Linked DNA regions of Homo sapiens. The protein of the gene in region 1 interacts with the protein of each later gene in a pairwise test. Each region holds a gene or a part of one and is shown in the gene's direction. Other genes may lie near its edges.

Region 1 (3,917 bases):
ATTTGAGACGCATTATATATGCAGTCAGAGCGATGAATTCATTCTGTTTATATCAGAGAACATTCCAGCAATTGTAAAGCCACATGCATGCACGCATGCACTCTCGAACCACATCCAGTGGCAAGTTATTATGGGGACTGACAGACTGTCATTCTTTTGATGGCTTGAGCTGTATATCTTCTGAACAGCAATGGGGCTCTTATGCAGAAAGTATCATATGTTCCCAGCCAATTTACAGGGAAACAGCAATAACATTTTATCATGGTTGAGAGCCCAGTAGCTGCTTCCTATTAAACTTGCCCTTTCAGATACCTGTCTTGGATTAATTTGTTGATTTCGAATGGAAACTCAGTCTTCTCCAGTGAAGCATGACGTTCTAGGATAGACTCTGAATGACAATTACTGTGTATTCTAGCTGGTTTCAGACCATTACAAGCCTTGGGCACAGTGGAAAACAGAGGACTTCAGTAACTGATTTTAATATCATGTCTAATTTTAACTGTCAGTTATGTATGTGCCAGAGAACGAATCCTCAGAAAGATGAAATGCAAAACACTTCTAACTTGCTCTTTTTAATGATACACTTTGCTGCGGGTGGGGGCAGGGGGAGGGAAGTGGAGAGGGAATAACTATCTCCTGAAGGGAATCAGCACGGTGGGGAAGCATCAGATTTGAAAAGTGAGAATGAAACAACTGCCACCTGATTTTTTGTGTGTGCCCCTCAGGATGCTTCTAAATAGTAATGTGTTCACCAGAAAGGGTTTCCATCAATCAATACCAGTACTTTTCCTTGAACATTCAAGAAAAATGTAGGGTTTTACAAAGTTAGGATAATTAGCTTTGCTCACCATTTTGTTGAATATTATAGAAAAGAGTGAATTTCCTTAGCTGTAAAAGCTCTTGTGAGCTACTACTGAGTGTAACCTGGTAGATTAGAAAGAAGGAAGGAATTCTGCTGCTTTAAATATGATGAACCATCTTAAAAGATCTAAGTTAGGAAGCCCTGAAATTATATTTCAAATGGAGAGAGAAAGTGACGTTTTGGAGTCTTTAAAAGTATTTTCTCCTTATGGAGCATATTAGATGTATGCATTCTTGAACATTTGGTACTTTGCAGTTATAGCAAATTAACTAATTGTTAATTGTGATTTTACTTTTCACAATTATTCCCTAAGCACACTGGCTTTATCTTTTCCTAAGTGATATACTACAGTAGCATACTGATAGCCTAATCTTATTTAAAAGGAGAAAGCAAGCATCAGTAGCATACTATGCATGCAGTGAACTTGGATCTTTATAAAAGAATGAATGAAACTGTTGGGTTTCTCTCTGGGAATCTACAGTTGAACAGAATGAATGATAGCCAATTTAGACTGAATTTCTGTATCTGTTACAATCCTTAGTAAAATCCATCACTATAACATGGGCCACCATATGAATTCAGATACATGATATGCCACATAGCAGTCTGGGAACCACAGCTACCCCTTGAAAGCCTGATTACATAACAGTTGTATTATGTGGTAATTCCATACATATTTTTGGCTGTTAGCCTCAGCCCCCTGCTCTAGCATCTGAAAAAATGTTTTATTGGCCATGATATTCAGATTTTGAAATAAACAGGCATGTGTTTTAGACACACAGAGTAAACAATCTGAGCGTGCCAAGATGCACAGTTTGTTTAACATTTACATAAGTGTCTCTTTTCAGTGTTTTTTTTATTTTCTGGAAGAGGTTGGTTTTAAGAAAAAGTGGAAAGCTTTTATGACAATTGTTTCATAATGGCTCTGTGTATGAAAGAAACCAAATAAATTGCTAGGAATAAAGTTTTATTTGAAACTTGATTCAGTGATACCTAGCAAAATTGTGCTTCCCAAACTGCATTATATCTTTAGAATCCAAGTAATGGAGCATTTTGATTCTATTATTTTTTCTAGGGTCCACATTGAACAGCCGTTTATGCCATCAGCCCAGTGATAGAACAAATGATGTTTCTGCTTGGGCAAGCTTTGTTTTATCAGGATCAGTAACCTTATCAGCAGTTGACCCAGAACTATAATGCATGTCTCTGAATAGATAGCATATGTCACAACTCTGTGCAGACTTGCTTCATAAGCAAGATTGTCTAATAAAGATTTAATAAATAAGGAAAAGTTTGCAGCAAAAAGTCTTCTTTTATAATAACTTTTCTTAAGCTCGTTTACAGCTCCTGGCTCATCTCTTGCATTTATTCTCATAAAAACTAAAGGAATAAACATACATATAAATGCATTCACACAGACTCCCATGATGCATCGTTTATCTGTCAGTATTTCTTTCTGAAATATATCATTTGTGGGTAAAGAATGTAGAATTTAAATTATCATATTGTTTTAAGGTTCTTATGTGACATATAAATGTAGTAATGTCCAAAGACTAGAAAACCCATGAGTGTGATAAACCAACAATATTTTTATGCAATTGTATATTATTTTTTCTTAATAATAGGATAACATAGAAGGTTTTCTCCAAATGCAAAATGGTCCTGGCTCAAAAATATTCTTATTTAACCAGTAGTGTTTAGTACTCTATAATTCAAAATTGGATTCTTCACTCTCGTATCAACCTGCTTAGATTTTAGAAGACATATAATAAATGGAGAGAGAAGATGGAGCATCCCCATACATAAATAAGTCACGCACGACGTGTACATTTTGACACTTAACACTTCTTTTCTTTGACCTTTGACAGGTTAGGGCTTGACCCAAAACTACTGGCTAAAATCCTAAATATGAGCTCAGGACGGTGTTGGTCAAGTGACACTTATAATCCTGTACCTGGAGTGATGGATGGCGTTCCCTCGGCTAATAACTATCAGGGTGGATTTGGAACAACACTCATGGCTAAGGTATGGTAAATGTAGACACCCAAGAGAGAAGGAAAAACGTTTCACGGTCCAATAACACCTTCCTTCTCTTTCTCTTAATAAAGCATATGTCTCAGGTAAGAGGCAAAATTACTAGAATATTCACTCTCACTGAAAATGAGTAAAAACCTAACTTAGATGAAAATCCTTATCTTGTTCATTTTTATTCCTGGCCTTTTGGTTGAGAAGAATGGGCCAGACCATGTGTGTGTGTGTATGTGTGTGCGTGTGTGTGTGTGTGCGCACTTGGGTTTATTTATATGAGCCGGTAAAATTTCGTTCACCATTAATTTATGTTAATTTACCAACTTCTTAAATGAGAACAGTGAGAATTTTCTCATTGTTAATAATACACTGGCAGTGCATATATGCATCACGAAGAGAGGATTTTCCCATTGATAATAGATTTCCAAATACATCTTCCTGCTTTAAGATTTTAATATATGGATTTATATATAAAAACTAGTTAAGTCATTGGAAAAGCAAACTGTCATCCTTCTCTTATTTGAGATCTCAACTTTAGAAAGTCTATGTTCTCAACTACAGAAAATAATTTTTAGACCAGCTAACTTTCAGATTTCTGCAGTGCTTATTTTCTCCCAGTTGAGGGTTGGTTTTTGTTTGTTTGTTTGTTTGTTTGTTTTTCCTGATTAAAAAGTAAGAATACGGCCAGGCGCGATAGCTCATGCCTTTAATCCCAGCATTTTGGGAGGCCGAGGAGGGCAGATCACCTGAGGTCAGGAGTTCGAGACCAGCCTGGCTAACATGGTGAAACCCAGTTTCTACTAAAAATAAAAAAAATTAGTCGGGCGTGGTGGTGCGTGTCTGTAAGCCCAGCTACTCAGGAGGCTGAGGCAGGAGAATCGCTTGAACCCGGGAGGTGGAGATGGCAGTCAGCTGAGATAGCACCATTGCACTCCAGCCTGGGCAACAGAGTGAGACTTCGTCTCAAATAGAAAAAAAAAAAGAAAAAGAATACATATACCTAGATACCACACAAGCATACCTTGGA
Region 2 (3,917 bases), on another chromosome or scaffold:
CTACCGCACTGCCCGTCTGAGTCTCCCACCTGCCCCCACAGGGAGAGCCATACCTGCGCACAGCGCACGGAGTCTTCATCTGCTACTGGGATGGCACTGTTCACTACCTCCTCTACCTGGCCATGGCCGGCGCCATCTGCAGAAGGTGCAGGAGGCAGGGAGAGGGTGGCCCCTGACCCTGGGAGAGAAGTTGCATCCTCAGATGGGGTCCCAGGGCAGGGTGGAGCCAGAAGTGTCTGTAGGAGAAATCAGGACGCCTCTCTAGGGCTCCAGCCAGGGGTGGCCAGGAGAAGGTTCCAGGGAACGTCTCAGGTGTAGGTGGTGGCCTAGCATTGCTTACATCCACCCTGTGCCTGGGCAGCCACTTCTGTTCTTGGACAGAGGGTCTCACTGTTATTTCCCCGTTCAACTCCCTGTTGTCCCTTCCATCCTGGGCAAAACTGAAAGGGACCCGGAGCTGGGAAACCCACGGTGGTCTCCAGGCCCTGGCTGGGGCTCTGAGATTACGGAGTGACTACCTGCTGGTCACCCCTCCATCCCCTGCTCAGGAAGAGATACCGGAATTTTGGACTCTACTGGCTGGGTTCCTTCGCCATGAGCATCCTGGTGTTCCTTACAGGAAACATTCTTGGTAAGGACAAGGCTTTGGGAAATCCAGGTTCTCTTGGGCTTGGTCACTGCCCTGCACCTAGAAGCACCCCCATTGGATCCTCCATCCCTTCCCTGATGTCTGCAGAGGCCCCACCTCCCTCTTTGCGTGTCCACAGCCTCAGTCAGCAGCCCACCCCTTTCCGGTCCCTGTTTCCTCTTGGAAGGCGGGAGAACCCAACTCTGCTTCCTCCCCAGGCAATGGTTCCCAGCCCCAGGGGTTTGACCCAGAATGGTCTTGACACAGGAAGGGAATTTTAGGGTGAATCTTGGGGACAGGGTGAAAGCTTCAGGGGTAGGTCTTGGGAGGTAGAGCAGTGAAGGCAGTCTGGGAGGTTGGCATGGCAAAACCTCAGCAAAGGGAACACTCAAGGTGTATTTGTAGGAAGCAAAGAACCCACTGGAAGGTAGGATCCATATTCAGAAGGTAAATTGAGGCAGGCTAGGCTAAGGAGTATGGACATCATCCTGTGGGCACTAGGGAGCCATGGAAGGTGGTGGAGCTTGAATGAGGATGGTATTTCTGAATCAAGATGTCCAGCCAGAGAGGCCACGTGTGGTGGCTCATGCCTGTAATCCTTATGTTGCTCAGGCTGGTCTCCAACTCTCGGCTCAAGCAATCCACCTGCCTCATCAATCACTTGAGCCGTGGAGATCAAGATCAGCCTGGGCAGCATGGTGAAACCCTGCCTATACTAAAAGTACAAAAATTAGCCAGGTATAATCCCAGCTACTCAGGAGGCTGAGACAAGAGAATTGCTTGAACCTGGGAGGCAGAGGTTGCAGTGAGCCAAGATTGCATCACTGCACTCCAGCCTGGGTGACAGAGCAAGACTCTGTCTCAGAACAAACAAACAAACAGATGTCCAGCAGGGTTCTGGCATGGCTGATGCCCTCTCTCCTGCACCATGGAAGGCAAATACAGCTCCGAGATCAGGCCTGCCTTCTTCCTCACCATCCCCTACCTGCTGGTGCCATGCTGGGCTGGCATGAAGGTCTTCAGCCAGCCCCGGGCGCTAACCCGCTGCACCGCCAACATGGTGAGTGCCTTACCCCTCTTAGGCCTTGTCCCAATGTGCCTGAACTTTCCCCGTGTCAGTTGCTTTTGGTCAAAGACTTAATTTCTGTGGAAGGTTCTCCTTTGTCACAAGAAAGAAGGGAGGGCTGGGTGCGGTGGCTCATGCCTGTAATCCCAACATTTTGGGAGGCCAAGGCATGAGGATCGCTTGAGCCCAGGAATTGGAGACCAGCCTGGGCAACACAGCCAGATTTTTTAACTCTACAAAAAGTTAAAAAATTAGCCAGATGTGGTGGTGCATGCCTGTGGTCCCAGCTATTCGGGAGGCTGAGGTGGGAGGATCACTTGAGCCCAGGAGATTAAGGCTGCAGTGAGCTGAGACTGTGCTGCTTCACTCAAGCCTGGGCAACAGAATGAGACCCTGTCTCAAAAAAAAAAAAAAAGAAAAAAGAAAAAAAAGAAAAAAAGAAAGAAGGGAGGAGCCTTAGGAACCTTTATTGAGTACCTACTGAATACTTGTCATTGACTACCTCTCATGCTGTCTGTTTCTCTCCCCTGGGCCAGGTGCAAGAGGAACAAAGAAAGGGACTCCTGCAGCGTCCGGCTGACCTGGCCCTTGTCATATATCTCATCCTTGCTGGCTTCTTCACTCTGTTCCGGGGCCTGGTGAGTCTGCGCTGGTTGGTCTCCCCCTCCCCTGCCACCAGTCTCCCTTCCCTGACCCACCTCTCCCACACTGCCCTTCCTGTTTGATCATCCAAGGAAGTTCTTCATCAAGTCTAACCTGAGTGTTCCATGACAAAGCCCCATTTCTCCCAGCCAGCCCAACTTGAGCTGGGCTGGGAGAGGCCAGAGCAAGGGGTGTGGGCCTGGGAGGGTGGGGGAGGCTTCCTGTGGGAGGTATGTCTGAGGGTTCTTGGTATGTCTGTCTGCTCCAGGTGGTGCTTGATTGCCCCACAGATGCCTGCTTTGTCTATATCTACCAGTATGAGCCATACCTGCGGGACCCTGTGGCCTACCCTAAGGTGCAGGTGAGAGGGGAGCGGGGAGAAGACCACACCCCTGCCATGGGTAGGGGTCCACTGGGCCTCTTTGAAGCAGGTGCCAGAAGCACAACTCAAACAGGCAGAAGCCCATATGGAATTTACTGTCCTACCAAAAAAGGACAGATGTGGTCTTCAGGTATGGCTGGATCCAGGTGCTCAAGGTGCAGACTCTGGGCTCTTCTTTTCTTTTCTTTTCCTTTCTTTTCTTTCTTTCTTTTTCTTTTTTTTTTTTTTTTTTAAACAGAGTTTTGCTCTTGTGGCCCAGGCTGGAGTGCAATGGCATGATCTCGGCTCACTGCAACCTCCACCTCCTGGGCTCAAGTGATTCTCCTGCCTCAGCCTCCCAAGTAGCTGGGATTACAGGCGTGAGCCACCATACTCAGCTAATTTTGTATTTTTAGTAGATACGGGGTTTTGCCATGTTGGTCAGGCTGGTCTCGAACTCCTGACCTCAAGTGATCCACCCACCTCGGCCTCCCAAAGTGCTGGGATTACAGGCATGAGCCACCATGCCCGGCCTCTGAGCTCTGCTTTCTTTGCATGGCTTCACTCTCAGGCAGTCCCTTTATGGGGTGGCAGAGACAGCCTGTGGCAGCTTCAGGCTTCCATGCACCCCACTCAGCCACCCCAGAGCAATGTGAGCCCTTATTACCCCCGAGCTTAAGCACAAGTCTTAGGCAGGCTCAGATTGGCCCAGCGTGAATCACTTGCCCATCCCTTACTGAGCATCATGGACAGGGGGCTGGAATGCTCCGACTGGCTAGGCCAGGGTCGCATGCCACTTTCAGAGAAAGGTTAGTAGGTTTGGTGTATGTGTTCGGGGGTTGGGGGCAAGGATCCCCAAGGGAAATAGAGGAGCACTTTGCAGAGAGCCTGGGTGGGGTCTGAGGCCATCCAGATCCTTCCTCAGGGCCTCCACCTCAGGGGTCTCAGGAGACCCACCTGGGGTAGCTGCTCATCTCACAGGCTGGTGCCCCTCTCCTCCCGCCCCTGCAGATGCTGATGTACATGTTTTATGTCCTGCCTTTCTGCGGCCTGGCTGCCTATGCTCTCACCTTCCCTGGTTGCTCCTGGCTTCCAGACTGGGCCTTGGTGTTTGCTGGAGGCATCGGCCAGGTGAGGTGGCGGATGGGTGGGTGAGCAGGCATGTGGGAGGGAATTTCTGTCTACTCATCAATGCCTTTGGTGTCCTCCCTGGGCACTGT

The links.
Region 2: the proteins of HIBADH (region 1) and TM6SF2 interact in binary tests that used the Homo sapiens proteins (3 or more experiments, as listed by UniProt).

What each region holds. Positions count from the first base shown.
Region 1 is NC_000007.14:27,530,162-27,534,078, reverse strand, and holds part of HIBADH (3-hydroxyisobutyrate dehydrogenase, mitochondrial isoform 1 precursor), read left to right. Parts: intron 1-2,730; coding exon 2,731-2,887; intron 2,888-3,917.
Region 2 is NC_000019.10:19,266,401-19,270,317, reverse strand, and holds part of TM6SF2 (transmembrane 6 superfamily member 2), read left to right. Parts: intron 1-41; coding exon 42-145; intron 146-548; coding exon 549-631; intron 632-1,563; coding exon 1,564-1,688; intron 1,689-2,230; coding exon 2,231-2,332; intron 2,333-2,604; coding exon 2,605-2,697; intron 2,698-3,708; coding exon 3,709-3,828; intron 3,829-3,917. UniProt on the Homo sapiens protein: Regulator of liver fat metabolism influencing triglyceride secretion and hepatic lipid droplet content. May function as sterol isomerase.